Linked DNA regions of Homo sapiens: region 1 is linked to region 2. Evidence: fine-mapped expression QTL. A gene starts in region 2. The other region holds a variant in brackets. All regions are shown on one strand. Distances are between the middles of the regions.

What was found. PIP is the estimated chance that this variant, and not a neighbour inherited with it, causes the effect.
Region 1: its variant is fine-mapped to the expression of ANXA5 in blood mononuclear cells (TOPMed, PIP above 0.99).

Annotation. Positions count from the first base shown.
Region 1 is chr4:121,657,031-121,666,778 of GRCh38, forward strand. No RefSeq gene overlaps it. Among named protein-coding and RNA genes, the nearest start is that of ANXA5, 35 kb to the right of the region's middle. The variant G/A (reference allele first, on the strand shown) is at 3,718.
Region 2 is chr4:121,692,211-121,702,438 of GRCh38, forward strand. ANXA5 (annexin A5) reads right to left here and starts at 4,770. Exons shown (of 13, transcript NM_001154.4): 1 at 4,653-4,770; 2 at 4,371-4,414. The coding sequence starts at 4,379. RefSeq lists a silencer at 4,719-5,138.

The sequences.
Region 1 (9,748 bases), 35 kb before region 2:
AATAGGCAGGAAAATAGATGGTCCTGAGAGCCCACAGAAAGGGACACGGCCCTGCCCACACCTTTACTTTAGTCCAGTGATACTAATTTTGGACTTCTGACTTCCAGAACTATAAGATAATCATTTGTGATATTTTAAGCCACTGTGTTTGTGGTAGGTATATATATTTGATATTCATATATGAAAATTTATGTATATGTATAAATGCACACACACACACACATTGCTGTAGGAAGAAAAATGGTTCCATTATTGTGAGAAACAGTTTTTATACAGTTACACATAGACTTACCATATAACCCAGCGATCCCATTCTTATTTATCCAAGAGAAATAGCATATATCCACATAAATATTGTACATGAATCTTTATAGTGATTTTATTCATGATCACTCAGAACTAGAAACAACACTGATGTCTACCACCTGATGAATGAATAAATGTACTGTGTTATATCCATAAAACAGAATATTATTCAGAAAACAAGGACAAACTAATTACTGATACACACTATAAGAAGGTTGTATCTCAAATGCATTATGCTCTTTGAAAGAATTCAGACTCAGCTGGACGCAGTGGCTCATGCCTGTAATCCCATCACTTTGGGAGGCCAAGGCCAGTGGATCACCTGAAGTTAGGAGTTTGAGACCAGCCTGGCCAACATGACGAAACCCCGTCTCTACTGAAAATACAAAAATTAGCCAGGTGTGGGGGGTGTCTGTAATCCTAGCTACTCAGGAGGCTAAGGCAGGAGAATCAGTTGAATTCAGGAAGCGGAGGTTACAGTGAGCCAAGATCACGCCACTGTACTCCAGCCTGGGTGACAGAGCAAGACTCCGTCTCAAAAAGTAAAAAATAAAAAAAAAAGAAAGAATTCATACTCAAAATGCTATACTGTGTGATTCCATTTATATGACATCCTGGGAGAAAAAAAAAAACAATAGAAACTGAAACCAGGTTAGTAATTACCTGAGTTTGGGAGTAGGCAAAAAGGATTGACTATGAGAGGGTTTTAGAAGACTTTTGGGGGAGAAGATGGGGGTAATGATAATATCCTATAACTTAATTGTTGTGATGGTTTCATAATTGCATGCATTTGACAACATTCAAGACACTGTACACCTAAAAAAGATGAATTTTACTGAATGTAAACTCAGCTTCAATATACCTAACTCTAAAAAAATAAAAAAGCAAGTAAGTTGAAACTGGACTTAACTTGAAACTGGGCTGGCCATTTGCTAACTTCAAGATTATCCTGAATTGGTAATACCTGAGCTTTGCAGAATTGCGCAATCTCAAATCAAGCAGAGACTGAGCTGAGCAATAGCCATCATGTTCCCCCACACTCATGTGGTTTACAAGGAAAGTGTTTTAGAAACTTTCATTATGTTCCTCTTCATGTTTTTCCATTATGAATTATCAAAGATTTTATGTATTTATTTTAGGGTAATGTTTTAAAATACATATTCACCTGATTCAACAATCAAAAGATTTAAAAGGTATACAGTGAAATATCTCCCTCTTTTCCCTGTCCCTCATCTACCCAGTTTTCTTCTGCACACACAATCATTATTACTAGTTTCTCATGTATCCTTCAAAAGTATTCTATTCTTGCACAGCAAATGCATACATGAATTCTTATTTTTCCTTTTTTTACACAAAGGGTAACCATATTGTGACCATTATTCTACATCTCAATATCTTCATTTAACAATATTCCTTAATTCTCAGTATTTTTCCACATCAGAACAGAGGAAGCTTTCTTACTCTTTGTGGCTGTGCTGTATCCATTGTACAAATGTACCATCATTACTTTACCCAGCCCCCTATTAACAGGCTTTTAAAATGTTTCCATATTTTGTTATTAGAAGAAATGCTACAATGCATAGCCTTATGCCCATGTTACTGCACATCAGTGGTATCATAAGACAACTTCTAGAAATACAACTGTTGAATCAAAGAGTATATATATATTTATAAATGTGATCTATAATGCCAGATGCCCTCCAAAGAGGATAGAACAATTCACAATGGCACCATCCAGTTATAAGAGCAGCTGATTGAGAAGGCCTTTATCAACAATTATTTTTGTCTTGGCTAATCTGCTCATTGAAACATTGTACCTCACCATAGTTTTATCTTGCATTATTTTTATTATGAACGAGATTAAACATCTTTCCAATTGTTGACTGATAACTTGTATTGCCTGCTCTGTAAATGACCTTTTCATGTCATTGGCCTTCATTTCTCATGAGTTATTGATCCTTTCCTTTCAATATGAAGGACCTCAATATGTATTAGGGAAACTACACCTATGAGTTGCAAATATTTTTCTGTAGGTGATTGTTTTTCTTTTAAACTTGCCTATTGTGCCTTTGACCATTCATAAATCTTTAACTTTCAATTCTAAAAGTTTAAGGTTTATTAGTTGAATTTAATCAGTCTTTTTGTCATTTATGGCTACTAGATTTTATAACATATTAACACTTGTTCCAAAGTCAGATAATAGAGTTAATTTTAATATTTGTATGATTTCTTCTTTTTATATTTAAATCATTGATCATCCTGAGCTGGGAGTTATGGATCCAGTTTTAGTTTTTTGAGATGTCTATCCAAAAGAGTGGGTCCTGGCACTATTTATTTAATAGTTATATTTTCTCTTTTGACTTAAAATGATGCTTTATACTACGTTTCTATCTGTATTGAGGCCTATTTCTGTCATTTTTATTCTATTTAATTGGTCTGTCTGCCTACTGTATGAGTACTACACTTCATTTTAGAGCCACTACCAAAAATAGAAAAATCAGGAAGACATATTTGTCTGTGGGAAATATAATGAATGTACTTTGAATCATTTGCGTATGAGAAGATAATGGTAGCAATAATGGATTTACGTTTTTAAAACATTTGGGGGGCCTCTAAAAAATGTTACAACAGTTGTAATTTTTGTTTTAGTATCTGGTCATTCTAGCCCCTTATCACAGTCCAATTCTTTTTTTTTAATTTTTTATTTAATTATACTTTAAGTTCTAGGGTACATGTGCACAACGTGCAGGTTTGTTACATGGGTATACATGTGCCATGTTGGTTTGCTGCATCCGTCAACTCGTCATTTACATTAGGTATTTCTCCTAATGCTATCCCTCCCCGCTTCCCCACCCCACGACAGGCCCTGGTGTGTGATGTTCTCTGCCCTGTGTCCATGTGTTCTCATCGTTCAACTCCCACCTATGAGTAAGAACATGTGGTGTTTGGTTTTCTGTCCTTGTGATAGTTTGCTGAGAATGATGGTTTCCAGCTTCATCCATGTCCCTGCAAAGGACATGAACTCGTCCTTTTCTATGGCTGCATAGTATTCCATGGTGTATGTGTGCCACGTTTTCTTAATCCAGTCTATCATTGGTGAACATTTGGGTTGGTTCTAAGACTTTGCTATTGTGAATAGTGCCACAATAAACATACGTGTGCATGTGTCTTTATAGTAGCATGATTTATAATACTTTGGGTATATACCCAGTAATGGGATGGCTGGGTCAAATGGTATTTCTAGTTCTAGATCCTTGAGGAAACGCCACACTGTCTTCCACAATGGTTGAACTAATTTACACTCCCACCAACAGTGTAAAAGCATTCCTATTTCTCCACATCCTCTCCAGCATGTGTCGTTTCCTGCGTCAGATGGTATCTCATTGTGGTTTTGATTTGCATTTCTCTGAT[G/A]ACCAGTGATGATGAGCTTTTTTTCATAGGTCTGTTGGCTGCATAAATGTCTTCTTCTGAGAAGTGTTTGTTCATATCCTTTGCTCGCTTTTTGATGGGGTTGTTTTTTTCTTCTATATTTGTTTAAGTTCTTTCTAGATTCTGGATATTAGCCCTTTGTCAGATGGGTAGATTGCAAAAATTTTCTCCCATTCCATAGGCTGCCTGTTCACTCTGATGATAGTTTCTTTTGCTGTGCAGAAGCTCTTTAGTTTAATTAGATCCCATTTGTCTATTTTGGCTTTTGTTGCCATTGCTTTTGCTGTTTTAGTCATGAAGTCTTTGCCCATGCCTATGTCCTGAATGGTATTGCCTAGGTTTTCTTCTAGGGTTTTTATGGTTTTAGGTCTTACATTTAAGTCTTTAATCCATCTTGAGTTAATTTTTGCATAAGGTGTAAGGAAGGGATACAGTTTCAGCTTTCTACATATGGCTAGCCAGTTTTCCCAGCACCATTTATTAAATATTAAATAAAGAATCCTTCCCCATTGCTTGTTCTTGTCAGGCTTGTCAAAGATCAGATGATTGTAGATGTGTGGTGTTATTTCTGAGGCCTCTGTTCTGTTCCATTGGTCTATTGGTCTATATCTCTGTTTTGGTACCAATACCATGCTGTTTTGGTTACTGTAGCCTTGTAGTATTGATGGAACGTATCTCAAAATAATAAGAGCTATTTATGACAAACCCATAGCCAATATCATACTGAATGGGCAAAACTGGAAGCCTTCCCTTTGAAAACTGGCACAAGACCAGGATGCCCTCTCTCACCACTCCTGTTCAACATAGTGTTGGAAGTTCTGGCCAGGGCAATCAGGCAAGAGAAAGAAATAAAGGGTATTCAATTAGGAAAAGAGGAAGTCAACTTGTCTCTGTTTGCAGGTGACATGATTGTATATTTAGAAAACCCCATTGTATCAGCCCCAAATCTCCTTAAGCTGATAAGCAACTTAAGCAAAGTCTCAGGATAAAAAATCAAGGTGCAAAAATCACAAGCATTCTTATACACCAATAACAGACAGAGAGCCAAATCATGAGTGAACTCCCATTCACAATTGCTACAAAGAGAATAAAATGCCTAGGAATCCAACTGATCCAACTAACAAGGGATGTGAAGGACCTCTTCAAGGAGAACTACAAACCAGTGCTCAAGGAAATAAAAGAGATCACAAACAAATGGAATAACATTCCATGCTCATGGATAGGAAGAATCAATATCGTGAAAATGGCCATACTGTCCAAGGTAATTTATGGACTCAATGCTATCCCTATCAAGCTACCACTGACTTTCTTCACAAAATTGGAAAAAACTACTTTAAAGTTCATGTGGAACCAAAAAAGAGCCCACATAGCCAAGACAATCCTAAGCAAAAAGAACAAAGCTGGAGGCATCAGGCTACCTGATCACAGTCCAATTCTTTAGAAAGAATTCTCCTGGCACTCTTACTTGTCTGTTTTTTCACATAAACTTCCAAAAATTTTCTCTGGGTATTTTAATGAGATCACATTAAATGTATAGTTGAATTTAAGGAGAATTGACAATGTCACAATAATAAACTTACACGCACAGCATTTCATAAATGCAGGTGATGGGTAGAAAAATGCACAGAGCGCTATTGCTGGGTCAGAAGGTAAATACATTTATAGATTGGGTAAATATTGCCAAACTACCCTCCAGAGGGGTTATACCACTTTTTATTCCTACTGACCATCTGTGAGAATTCCTAGTTCACTGTAGCTTGCCGTCACAACAACGATGTTCTCCAACTTTTGGATTTTTGACAATCTGATAGGTGGAAAAAGGAATCTCAGTGTAATCTGAATTTGCGCTTCCCTTATTATGAGTTAAATCAAGCATCTTTTCATGCTTAAGGGCCATATTTCTTATTCTATGAACTGCCTATTCATCTCTTTTGCCCTTTTTTTTTCTTACTATAGTACTGGTTTGGGGTTTTTTTCCCTTTAAAAAATGTATATACCTTAATTTAAAACTACTTTATTGCTAAAAAATGCTAACAAACATCTGAGCCTTCAGCGAGCCATAGTCTTTTTGCTAGTGGAGGATCTTGCCTCGACGTTAATGGCTGCTGCTTGGGATACTGCAGCAATTTCTTAGAATAAGACAATAATGAAGTTTGCCGCATTGATTGACTCTTTTTTTAACAAATGATTTCTCTGAAACAGACTTTTTTTTCTAAGAGACAAGCTCTCGCTCTGTCACCCAGGCTGGAGGGCAGCAGCATGATCATAGCTTACTGCAGCCTCAAACTCTTAGGCCTCAGCCTCCCATGCAGCTGGAACTACAGGCATGCACCACCACACCAAGCTCATTATTTTTTCATTTCTTTTTTGAGAGACAGGATCTCCCTATGTTGCCTGGGCTGGTCTTGAACTCCTGGCCTCAAGCAGTCCTCCTGCCTCAGCCTCCTGAGTAGCTAAGCATAAGCCACAGTGTCTAGTAGTAGAGCTTCTTTCAAAATTGGAGTCAATCTTCTCAAACCCTATGGCTGCTTTATCAACTAAGTTTATGGAACATTCTAAATCCTTTGTTGTTGTTTCAACAATGTTCACAGCATCTTCACCAGGAATAGTTTCCATCTTAAGAAACTAATTTCTTTGCTCATCTATAAGAGCAACTCTTTGTCCATTCAAGTTTTATCATGACATTGCAGCAATTCAGTCACATCTTCAGGCTTCACTTCTACTTCTACTTCTGTTGCCATTTCCACCATGTCTGCAATTACTTCGTCCACTGAAGTCCTAGGCCCCTGAAAGTCATCCATGAGGTTTAGAATGAATTCCTTCCAAACTCCTGGTAATGCTGATATTTTTACCTCTGCCCATGAATCATGAATATTCTTAATGGCTGTATTAATCTGTTCCCACACTGCTATAAAGAAATGCCTAAGACTGGGTAATTTATGAAAAGAAATTGAATTGATTCCACAGTTCTACAGGCTGTACATGAAGCATGGCTGGGAGGCCTCAGGAAACTTACAATCATGGCAGAAGGCAAAGGAGAAGCAAGTACATCTTACCATGGTGGAGCAGGAGGAAGAGAGAGTGACGGGAGAGGTGCTACACACTTGCAAACAACCAGATCTTGTGAGAACTCTATTATGAGACAACACTAGGGGATGATACTAAACCATTAGAAACCACCCCAGTGATCCAGTTACTTCACACCACTCAGCACTCAGAATCATAATTCAACATGAGATTTGGGTGGGAACACAAAGCCAAACCATATCAATGGCATCTAAAATGGTGAATCTTTTCCAGAATGTTTTCTATTTACTTTGCCCAGATCCATCAAAAGAATCACTATCTATGGCAGCTATGCCCTTATAAAGTACATTTTTTAATAAGACTTAAAGGTTGAAATTACTCCTTGATCTATGGAGTGCAGAATATATGTTGTGTTAGCAGGCATGAAAACAACATTCAGCTCCTCCTAAATCTCCATCAGAGCTCTTAAGTGATGAGGTGTATTGTCAATGTACAGTAATATTTTGAAAAGGATTTTTTTTCTGAGCAGGTCTCAAAAGTGGGCTTAAAATAACAGCAAACCATGCTATAAACAGATGTGCTATCATCCATTGTTGTACCATTTATAGAATGCAGGCAGAGTAGATTTAGCATGATTTTTAAGGGCCCTAGGATCCAGGGAATGGTAAATGAGCACTGGCTTCAGCTTAACATCACCAGCTGCATTGGCCCCTAAAGAGTCAGCCTGTTCTTTGAAGCTTTAGCCAGGCATTGATGTATCCTCTCTAGCTATAAATTGCATCTTCTAATAGAAGGCTGTTTGTTTACACTAAAAATCTGTGGTTTAGTGTAGCCTCCTTTATCAATTATCTTAGCTAGGTCATCTGGAGAACTAGCTGCAACTTCTGCATCAGCACTTGCTGTTTCAATTTGCACTTTTCTATTACAGAGACGGCTTCTTTCCTTAAGCCGCATGAACCAAAACTGCTCACTTACTTTTCTTCTGCAGCTTCCTCACCTCTCAGCCTTCATGGAATTGAAAATTAGGATCTTGCTCTGGATTGGGCTTTGACTTAAGGGAATGTTGTGGCTGGTTTGATCTTCTAACCAGACTACTCAAACTTTCTCTATATCAGCAATACGGCTATTTCACTGTCTTAATCATTCATGTGTTCAATGGAGTAGCACTTTTAATTTTCTTCAAGAAAGAAAATTAAAATTTACATTTATTCTCAATTTGGCTGTTTGGCACCAGTAGCCTAGCTTTCAGCCTGCCTTGGCTTTTGACCTGCCTTACTCACTAAGCTGAATCACTTTGAACTTTTCATTTAAAATAAGAGATGTGTGAGTCTCTTCCTTTCATTTGAACACTCAGAGGCCATTGCAGGGTTATTAATTGGCCTAATTTCAATATTGTTTTGTCTCAGGGAATAGAAAGGATCAGAGAGAGAGAGAGAAAGAGAGAGAGAGATGAGGGAACAGCCAGTCGGTGGAGCAGTCAGAACTCACATATTTATCAATTAAGCCCACTGTCTTAAATGGGCATGGTTCATAGCACCTTAATTATGACAGTAACATTGAAGATCACTGATCACAGATCACCATAAGATACATAATAATGAAAACTTAAAATATTGCAAGGATTACCAAAATGTGACAAACAGATAAAGAGTGAGCACATGCTATTGGAAAAATGGTGCTGATACACTGACTCAATGCAGGGTTGCCACAAACTTATGATTTGTTTAAAAAAATTTTTTTTTAATTGTTTGCAAAGTACAATAAAACAAGGTGTGTCAGCATGTACAAAGGAGATTAGATCTTTGTTGTATGAACTGTAAATGTTTTCCCGTTTGTCATTTAAATTGTCTTGGTGGTGATTTTCCCTCCCTCCCTCCCTCCCTCCCGTCTTCCCTTCCTCCCTTCCTCCCTCCCTTCCTTCCTTTCCTCCCTCCCTCCCGTCTTCCCTTCCTCCCTTCCTCCCTCCCTCCCTTCCTTCCTTCCTTTCCTCCTTCCCTCCTTCAGGCTCTCTGCAGCCTTGTGCTCCTGTGCTCAAACAATTCTCTCACCTCAGTCTCCCAAATAGCTGAGACCAGAGACGTGTGCCACCACATCCAGCTAATTTTTTGTTTGGTTTTTTAAAAAATAAAAATGGGGTTTTGCCATGTTGTCCATGCTGGTCTCAAACTCCTGTGCTCAAGCAATCCACCCACCTTGGCCTCCCAAAGTGCTGGAATTACAGGCATGAGCCACTGTGCCTGGCCTGCCTTCCATGTAGTTTTTGATTTTTAGGAAATCAAAAATAATCATCTTTTCTCCTATGGCTTCTGGATTTTGGGTGATAGAAAGGCCTCACACTTCAAGATCATTATGGCAGACATGGAACTGCACCACTTAGATCCCCTTTCAAGAAAATACTCAGTTCCAAGCTGTGAAAATGTGGGTTGCTGACAGCCTTCCAACTCTTAATCTCCTTCAGGTTTTGCCTCAGCTTTCCAGCCAAGCCAAGCTCTTCTCCAGAAGACACTTAGCCAATAATTGAGTAAGGAAGGTGGTGGCACAGGGCCCAGGCACTTCTGTCTCACAAAGGGCTCTTTGCAGGAACTCTTTGCCTCAGAGTTCCACATGATACTGGCAAAGATTTGGTCAGGTCTGCAGTGCAATCTGATGACACCCCTTGCCCAATCCTGCCTTCTACCTGTTCCATTCAATAAACCTGTTGCATCCCTAACTCCATCTCAGCATCTGCTTCCCAGAGAATCTAGAAGGTGCAGGTATGATGAAATCCCTCCATGCTTCTTTCTCATATGTTTATGATTTTATTTTTAAGTTTAAATGTTTCATTTTGAGAGTTACCTGATACATGAGGTATAGAAAAAGCCTTATATTTTCCTAGATGGCTCCCCAACTGTCTTCACACCATTTGTTAGAAAAAAATGCTATCTTTACCCAGCAAATTAAGACCTACCTTTAACATATACTAAATTTCCAAATGATTTGTTTCCAT
Region 2 (10,228 bases):
GAACAGACTAAGTTGTTTGCATCGTGGTAGAAAAGAAGGTTTTGATAACAAAGTGAAGATTTGTAAAATGATTTAAATTTTTGTTGTGTATTTCTTTAATGCTCTGTGTTTAATGTTGTGTCTCTTTACCAGTGTAAGAATGACTTCCCTTGACAAACACCAATAAAATGGAAAGTTAAATTGTGTGCTCAAGTTGCCCAAGAATAACTCCAGTGATGTCTTGAGTGAGTTAAAGTGAGCAGGTGGCATTGGCCTCCCATGAGTTCACATTGAAGGTCAGAGGAGAGTATGCTCTTTTACCAAATTGTTCCATTGGGCATTCCATGAATAACACTTGAAAAGTTCTATCCCTTCCAAGACAAGGCTTGATTTCCCCACCTCACTGCAGTTTCACTCCATCATGCCAAACTCTTTTACACCCCTAAGTATTTATTTGCTGTTGTTACCTCTCTGTATGATGGCTTCCCTCCTTTGTCCCATACAAAGAATGCCAGCTAAGTAACCTCAATTTCCCCTTCTGTGAAACAAAAATAGTAATACCTATTTCCAAAACTGTGTTATGAGGACTAAATAATGCACACAAAAGACTTGGCAATGCATCTATTATATCAATAAATCTTAGATCCATTTCCCATTGCGCTCATGTTTAACAATACTTGGCACATAGTGAAAATGCAAAAGCCTCATGCATTCATGAATGCATGCATGGATGAAAAAGAGAACAGTTAAGAACTAGTGTCCCACCAGGCGCAGTGGCTCATGCCTGTAATCCCAGCACTTTGGGAGGCCGAGGCACACGGATCACTTGAGGTTAGGAGTTCGAGACTAGCCTGGCCAACATGGCGAAACTCCGTCTCTACTAAAAATACAAAAATTAGCCAGGCGTGGTGGCACATGCCTCTAATCCCAGCTACTCCGGAGGCTGAGGGAAGAGAATCAGTTGAACCCAGGAAGCAGAGGTTGCAGTGAGCTGAGATCACGCCACGGCACTCCAGCCTGGACAACAAAGCGAGACTCCATCTCGGGGGAGAAAAAAAAAAACCCAAAAAACTAGTGTCCAAAGAAATGAAGCCAGGAGTATAATTCCTTGCAATTAATCAATTGATGATATGTTTACATATTATGTAAACTAACTAAACTGAAAGACTGCGTCTAAGAAGCACTTAAAGCAAAGGTCTTAGGAGCCCTAATTTTTAAAAAACAGATGCATTTGTGAAATTTTAGAATAGTATGAAGGTTATATGAATAAAATGTATTTCAGGAATGAATCTATGCTGTAAAAGCACTGTTATATTTTTACCATTTTGAACTTCTAAGTCATTAAAAGAAGAAAGCCGGACTGCCTGCCTGTAACTAGCCTGATCACCTATGTAGGCCTTCCAAGGAGAACTGGATATTAGATAAGGAAATCAGGGTTTGCTGAATGCCAATGAATTGCTCAGTGGCTTGCAAAGCAGCCAAGTAGTTTTTGATCTAGTTCTTTCTCAGCAGCCAAAATGAACTTAAGAGTTAAACAGATAAGGAACCAAGAGAAATCACCAGGAGCAGCACAGGCCACGGGTAAACAGGTAACCCTGATCTAAGATCCCAAAAGTGAACATTAGCTCCAGAGAGACTTGACTTTAAAAAATGAATGGCATGAAAAGATGCAATCAATATCCAGTCAGCTCCTCTGGAAGGAGTTTCATCTCAAATTTATTTATTTACATTTATCCTGCTTGCTCGGCACAGGGCTTTTTTAAATTATTATAATAATTTTAAACCAACCGAAAATATTTCTGATCAAACCTTGTAACTTAAACATATACCATAGAGATAATTCTGATGTTCATGAGAACACTTGGACACAGAAAGGGGAACATCACACACCCACACCGGGGCCTATTGTGGGCGGGGGGGAGGGGGGAGGGATAGCATTAGGAGATACAGCTAATGTAAATATTGAGTTAATGGGTGCAGCACACCAACATGGCACCATGTATACATATGTAACAAACCTGCATGTTGTGCACACATACCCTAGAACTTAAAGTATAATAAAAATATATATATAATAAAAAATAAATAAAAAATAAACAAAAAAATTCTGATGTTCATGAAGCTTCTAATGAACAATTACGTAGCCTAGTTTTGCCTTCATGACATTCTTACTGCTCAGACGCCGCACCCAACTTTAATACTAAACTTTTTTTTTGAGACGTAGTCTCACTGTTGCCCAGGCTGGAGTGCAGCAGCGCGATCTCAGCTCACTGCAACCTCCGCCTCCCGGGTTCAAGTGATTCTCCTGCCTCAGCCTCCCGAGTAGCTGGGATTACAGTTGTGCACCACCATGCCCAGCTAATTTTTGTATTTTTAGAAGAGACGAGGTCTCACCATGTTGGTTAGGCTGGTCTCGAACTCCTGACCTCGTGATCCACGTGCCTCAGCCTCCCAAAGTGCTAGGATTACAGGCATGAGCCACCATGCCTGGCCAATACTAAATATTTTAACAAAATGTTTTACTTTCATGATTTCCAAAAATAGTAACAAAACTAGAACAAAATTTAACACTCTGTATCTTTTTTAAAACATTACTTGTAACTTTTATGATTAGTAAAAACTGTAGTTTTGATAGAAAACAGTCTTGGTGTTATATTGTCATAGGGCTCAGGTACATAATTTTATATGCAAACCACCATTCTCCTAGGTTTTCTATACACATGGCCTTTATGATACTAATCATTCTTTGAAATTATTAAAATTAATGTCCACAACTGGAAAATATGTTCGCTTATACTATTTGGGTAAACAGTCTACATAATGAAAAGGAATTGATGGACCCTCAGACATCACTGGGGAACTTACAAGAGATTCAAGAAACTGCTAAATGAGCAAAGATAGAGGGAATTATTATTCGATGCTTGTTAAATCTTCATGTACATCACCACACCAGCATATCAAGATAGGAAAAATATTACTCAGGAAAGTTAATTCCACATAAAAGTATCCTTTCTATGGAGAAGAACTTAAACCAAACTTTCCACTTGAAGTAATATGAGAATTGGTTTACTGTAACATTTAAGTGCAAAAGAGGAGGTAAGAATGGGATCACTGTGTAAGTTTCATAAAGTAATCAACTAATCTTAATCCTCCCATTTTCACTTGGAAAGGACCAAGAAACCTTTTTCAATTTTGATAAGTCAATCTGATAAAAAGTGAACTATAAATAAGAGACAGCATTGTTTTAGCAGTTAAAACACTTGTTTAAAAAAAACTATCTGGACTCTGACAAGCCGGTTAGATTGACAAGATCTGTGAAATCAGTTTTAGAGTTTTTAAGCCCTGGTATCTTATTCACAAAAGACTGTATAACATGGTCAATATTTAAAGACCTTAAACTATCTTCTCTTTCCTACATTTTTGATAAACATTAATAACAGTAAAGAAACCAGGCGCAGTGGGATTACAGTCCTGAGGCCGAGGCGGGAGGATCACTTGAGGCAAGGAGTTTGAGACCAGCCTGGCCAACATGGTGAAACCCCGCCTCTACTAAAAATACAAAATTAGCTGGGCATGGTGGGGCGCCTGTAATCCCAGCTACTTGGAAAGCTGAGACACGAGAATTGCTTGAACCCGGGAGGCAGAGGTTGTAGTGAGCGAGATCACTACGTCACTGGACTCCAGCCTGGGCGACAGAGTGAGACTCCGTCTCAAAAAAAAAGGAAAAAAAAAAAACAGTAAAGAAAGCCTGTAGTAGATTATCAATTTCTGAAACAGTCCCAAGGCAAATTCAATTGAGAACTCGTTCCACGAGTTCATTGCTTAAGAAAAACAGCGCTTGTGTTTAATCTTTTGGATTAAAAAAAAAATCAGAGCCTACGTCCTACAGTTTTAGTAAAACTGGGCTGAGCAACTGGAAAAAGCCAATGCTCAATCACAGTATTAAAATACAGAAAACTTTGCGGAAAAAAAATAAAGGAAGTCGGGGGGCGGGGTGGGGGGGGAATGCGTTCGCCTCACATGACCACGATGAGCTGTTCTTGCTCCGGTTCTAATTTGAGCTACTCTCTGGATTTTGGGGAAGGCCCACTTTTACACATTCACTCATGAAAAGGGAGCGCACACAAATCCGGCCACGTCACCAGCTGTTGCGCGCGAAGGCAGCTTGGCGGCGTCGGTGCTGGTTCCGGAGGGCGCTCAGCGGGAAGAACCGGGACACAGAAACGGGGGCAGGGAAGCAAAGGGGGAACAAGAAAAGTGGAAGCGATGTCCCCAAAGCAGGTTCCCTTTCCTCCTAAACTTTTTGGCTCTCAGACAAATCCTAAAAGTCCCTCGTCGCAGCATACAAAGTTGTGGGTAAATCCAGCGCAGTGGGGGGCGCACGGCCTTACCTGTGCCATGGCGACTACTCAGGTCAGGGGAAGGTGAAGCAGGACTGCAAAAGAGAAGAAACCTCGGGCTTAGCGCGCCATTTGCAACTCGTGCCCTCCCCAAGCGCAGGTCCGCGGGGACCCGGCGGCGCTCAGACAGCCCGGAGGGCCCCGCCACGGGGCCGACCCGCCCTCTCGCAGCTACCGGGACAGCTCTCGGCCGAGCGTCCGCGCGAATCCAGTGCCCCGCGACCACGCTCTCCTCTCCAGAAGGAGCCCCCTCCCCGGGCTGCGACCACTCACCCAGACTGTGGGACCCAAGTGCCCCGAAACCCCGGGAGAGCGGCGGAGAGCCGGGCGACGGTACGCGGGGCGACGCCGAGATGCAGACGCTGAAGGATCCGGCAGCTGCACCTAGACTGATCCAAGCAACGGAAACGCCAGCGGCCCCACCCCGGCCCTGCCCGGCTTGGCCCGTCCCACCCCCGCCAGGGCCCCAACCGCAGGCCGGCCGCGCCAGCCGGGCCCGCCCCTGCCCCGGCCTCAGCGCGCCTGCGTGGGTCGCGGCTCGTCCCAGTTGGTCTCCCGCGGCGCGGACTGTCCCGCTGGTCTCGCGGGCCTGGGTGGGGAGCGGCCGCAGAGCTGCTGGAACCAGGAGGAGGCGCCGCTCCCCCGAGGGCCCCGGAGACCTCTTGTCCTCGCGCCGCGGGAAGGGCCTGGGGAGCTGTCCAGGGCTCGGGGTTTTGGAGGTGCTTGAGCCTCCCTGCCCTCTGTGACCGCAGGAACCGTAGCCTCACTTGGGTGCTCAACATAGTGCGTGGGCGTCTTTTTGGAGGCGAGACAAAATCATCGCAGCTAAGGACAGCGCGCCTTTGTCGATGGGATAGAAAAAACGTGAAAGGAGGGCCGTTTCCCAAGTTGTTTTTGTTTCTGTTTTGTTTTGTTGTTTTGTTGTTGTTTTAATGCCTATTATTGCTTCCTAGATGGCCCTCTCTTAAATGTACAGCCTTCTAGTAGCGTATGTGGGCTATTTGAAAACCTCTGCTTCCAATCAGTTTCTGTTTTCAAAACTAGCCTAGAACTTTAATATGACTTAAATTTGAGCAATGCCTCATATTGGTTCAACATAAAATATATGAGTATATGAGAGAGAGGGGGAGGGAGGGAGAATCTACAGCGTATTGTACTAGCATGGTGCTGTGTTCTGTGAAAGGGCTTTATATGCAAAGCAGCCCCCAAACGCGAAGGAGTCAAGAAACCAAAGAACGAGACAGACAAATCCAGTCTGTAGGTAATAGGGGTGCTATTGGAGGATGTGGTAGACAGAAGCGTGGCCTTGGGCGGCGGCAAGCAGATAAATTTCTGCACTGTTACTCCCCAGACCCTGGCCTTATATACCGTAAGGAAAGAGTATACTGCTCTGTGCAAGACAATTAAAGGCAGCCCTCCGGAACAGGTGAGAATGCCGTATGCTTCATAGCCTACAATGTGGGCAATAGCATCAAGGTTGACATGTTCTTATGCTAAGGACAGTTTAAAAAAAAAATCCTAGGAATCAGGAGGTATTCATGGGACTGGGGTTATTAAAGGTCAACATGGCGGATTAGCATCCGGGATATAATCACTTTTGTCTCCATATGCTGGAAAAGGAAAAGTAGAAGACACAGGGACCTTCTCAGACTTACTGGTGTGGGGAGGGAAGGTGCCAGGGCAGAGGGGGCAAGAGGACAAGTTTGCGACACTAGATGCAGTGTTCTAGACATATGCTAGAATGGGAAGGGCAAAGTGCTTCTCAACGTGGAGGTTAAGGGTAAGAGATGAGGATCTAGTCTTCTTTGAGAATGAGGAAGAATAAATTAAATGGACAGCAAATGTGGTTCTTTGTATAGAACTTCTCATTCGCTTTCACGTGTGAACCACATGCCTATTCCAGCCCTGACAAAGTCACAACAGAGTGGTTGTTCTCTGGGAAAGGAGGCAAAATTGCAAAATTTGTGGAGCTTGCCAACCCCATCACCCCCACCCCACTGGCGGGTTGCCTTTCCTCTGGGAGCCTCCTCTCCACCAGCCCAGCTGTCTACTCAGCCTCAGGCTCTCCCCAAGTCAGCACCTCCCCCGGGTTTTCTTTACAGGTATTAATATATCTGAAGGCAGCCCTTTTCTGAGCATCTGTCTCCGTTGCTCCAGCTTTTCTACTTTCTCTCTGCCCTGCACCAAAAGCAGGACCTGTAGTCTTGCCTAGAGCATTCTTTTTTCTCACCCATATCCACTTGAACTCAGTTTGCTTCTCTCACTTTCTACTCTCACATTAATGGAGTTAAACAGGACCTCAGAGATCCTGTATTTAACAATCATTGATTTTACAGGGACATGAGACTCATCATGGGTTAGTGACTTGCTCTATGTCCTGCAGCTAAATACTGACAAAATCGATGAGTTATTGGACTCAGAGTCTTGAAATACTCCAGGTAGCATTTCTTTCACTTCCAGTAATATCAGTTTATTCAACTCCTACTCTGGACCAGGCACAGATCTAGGTGCTGGGGTAAACACGGCAAGTGAAACAAAGGCCTTGCCCTCATAGGTCATACATTCTGGTGGAGGAAACAAACAATAAACAAGTATCTAATATGTCCTGTGTGATGCGTGGTATAAAGAAAATAAAGGCTAGGGAATGGAAATGAAGGGAACACTTATTTTGCAAAGGTGATATGAAGCCATTTCTGAGAAGCCTTGAACAGAAACCTAAATTGATACAATTTAATTGTATTTGACAACTATACACTGAGCACCTGTGGAAAGGCCATACCTAAGAGTTTGCACCTTAATATTATAGATAAAGCATGTATATGAACACTACAATGAGAGACTATAAATCAGGAAAGAAATGCCTAGAATGCAATCAAAATGCAATTAGTTTCAGAGGAAGGAGCTAATATTTTGTCAGATGGTTGACATAGCATTTGGATTAGGCTTTTGAGAGAGGATATTTTATCAAACTATGAAGGGGAGAAAGGGTGGTCTGGTTAAGTGAACTGCAAAACCAAGAGAAGGAAAGTATCTCTTTGTGTCTGTGTGATTTGAACTGTCTAAAATGGCTGGAGTGGAAGGTACAATATTAGAGTTGAGAGATGTAGAAACTAAAACACAAAGAAGCTCAGCGACTTATTTAGAATAAAGAGAGATTGCCACATAAAGATTCTGCTTTGAATTGTGTATTTAATTGATGGATTTTGAACAACTGATGTTCTTAACTACTGAGTGATATAAATGATAGGCACTCAGGAAATCTCTTTCACTACCTCTTGTCAGCCTAATAACAAACAGAGAGGGAGACTTTCTAAAAGAAAATGATGTTTATTTGGGAATGGGCATTGCAATGGGAATATGTGTGCCATATTAAACTATTTTGCGTATTCAGGGAGGTAAAGGAAGGCAAAGGTTTTTCAAGGAAGAAGGAAGATTACATCATTGTTTTTGAGATAATTATCCTTGGCTACAGTAATCAATAACTAGAGTGGCACCAGTCTAATGTTGTACAGGCAGTTGCTGGGCAGATGTCTCCGCAGAAGTTCTCATTTTCTCTCTCTCTCTCTCTCTCTCTCTCTCTCTCTCTGTGTGTGTGTGTGTGTGTGTGTGTGTGTGTGTGTGTGGTTGCAATGGCCTTTGTCCAAAGTTGTGGTTTTTGCAGTATTTTTCAATAGTTCTTGTTATCAGGCATTTATGTATTAGAACCCTCCCTTCATGGCCTTCCCCAGCCATTTGTCAGGGATTTGTCTCGTTTTTTAACACAATTGACTCCATTTTGATAAGGACAGCTTTCACACTCTTAAAAACAAGTGTCTGTCATTCATCCCCCAATGGCCTTTATCAGTGTCCAAATGTCATCTTTAGAATCTCTGCCGGATTCGCCAGTTAAGTCTTTCATCTTTCTAATTAAATTTTCTCTTCTTACACATTTAAAAATTAAAGTCCTTCTTTCTCAGTGTATTGTCTTTGTGTTGTGTTCATTATAAGTACTACATAATAATTGTGGGGAGTTTTTTATACTATTCTTAGATATAAATAATGAGTTTCAGCTGTTTTCTATGAGACACTCAGGTCACATCAATTTTCTTTTTATTAGAGAAATATACCAAATGCCAGAGAACTAATTTACAAACACACTTTTGAAACTGTATTTATTTGTTAACTCAGGATTTTCCCTATTTCTCTCAATTATTTGGATCATTCAGGAACTAGCCAATTTATTCTAAATAAGTCGCTGAGCTTCTTTGTGTTTCAGTTTCTACATCTCTCAACTCTAATATTTTGATCATATATTCATGGCCCTACTGTTTCCCTTGATTATAATGACACATAAAGAAAAGAAAATGAGTTACAGGCTTTTTATAAATAAGTACAAAACAACTCTTCTTTAGTTTTAGAGGAATTGGAATCTTGTTTTTTAGAAAATTATAACATTTTCAACCAGTCTACTTTAAAAATTGATTTTGTTTAATAAATATATCTATTGCAAATTATGGCAAGTTAAAGAAGAAGAAAAGATGGCAGGAGAATGAATTGCATGAAGCAGAAGAAACGAGAGAGTGGCTGAGGAGTAAAGTAGGGGCTAGATACAAAGGGAAAGGAGGAACATCATGTCTTCCAGGCAAGATCTGGAAAAAGCACACTCTCTGAAGACAGAGACAGTTGAGTTCAAATCCCTACTCTGCCTGCATACCAGGGATGTGACTTGGACAAATTATGTGATTTCTCTGATCCTTGGCTTCCTTATCTAGAGTGGAGGCTAGTTTCAAATAAGTTAATTTGTGAAACTGCCTAACAAATTGTGAAAAAGGGTTGATTCCATTCCCCCATGGCTCTTTTTTCTTTCAGAAACACTAACCATCATTCTCAGTTCCTGTTCTGATGATTAAGGACCCACCTTCATATTAAAAGCAAAAATAACCTCCTCTGGACCCACTGCTCCACTGCAGCAGGACCTATTGCCAGCCAGTCTCTCAGAGACGGCAGGTCCAACTCTTGGGGGCCAACCTGATGCTTCCTGGTGCCATTCCCCCTTCTTCCCGCCTATTCTGCCTCATCCAGAGTCTACCATCGATGGCCCCTATCAACATACAACTAGCCTAGACCCCCACCCTCTACCCTTCTCTCCACACGTGGGCCCTCTGATCCCCATCTGCTGGTGCCAACAACTGTAAAACCGTCACCTGGAATTTAATTCAAGTCACCTATCTGCCCTCAACTCATTCATGTCTTAAAGTCCCAGGGTGAGATTAGAGGTGGGGCTGCCTTCCTCAGTGGGCTCTGTCAAGTCTTTTTCCACCATCATCTCTACATCCCAGCAGTGATACTGGAATGTAGCTTTATTCTAGTGGCTCCCCATTCTTGCTCTTTAGGTTTAAAGTGGTTGTAGTGTCTCTGGAGAAAATAGGTCTCTCAGTGTGTTCAGGCTGCCATAACAAAATTGCATGAAGTGAGTAGCTTATAAACAACAGAAATGTGTTTATCACAGTCTGAAGCCTGGAAAGTGCAAGAACAAGGTTCCACAGATTTGGGGTCAGGTGAGGGCTTGCTTCCTCATAGACAGCCATCTTTACTGTAACCTCACATGGCAGAAGAGACTAGCTAGCTCTCTGGGGTCTCTTTTTTAAAGGCACTCTTAGTCCCTTTTCTGTTGCAATAAAAATACCACACACTGGGTAATTTATAAAGAACAGAAGTTTATTTGGCTCACAGTTCTGGAGACTGGGAAGTCCAAGAGCATGGCACCAGCGTCTGGTGAGGGCCTTCATGCTATATCATCCTGCGGAGGAAGGCAGAAGGTAGAAGGGAAACCAAGCACTTGAGACCAAGAGAAAGGTGACCAAATTCAT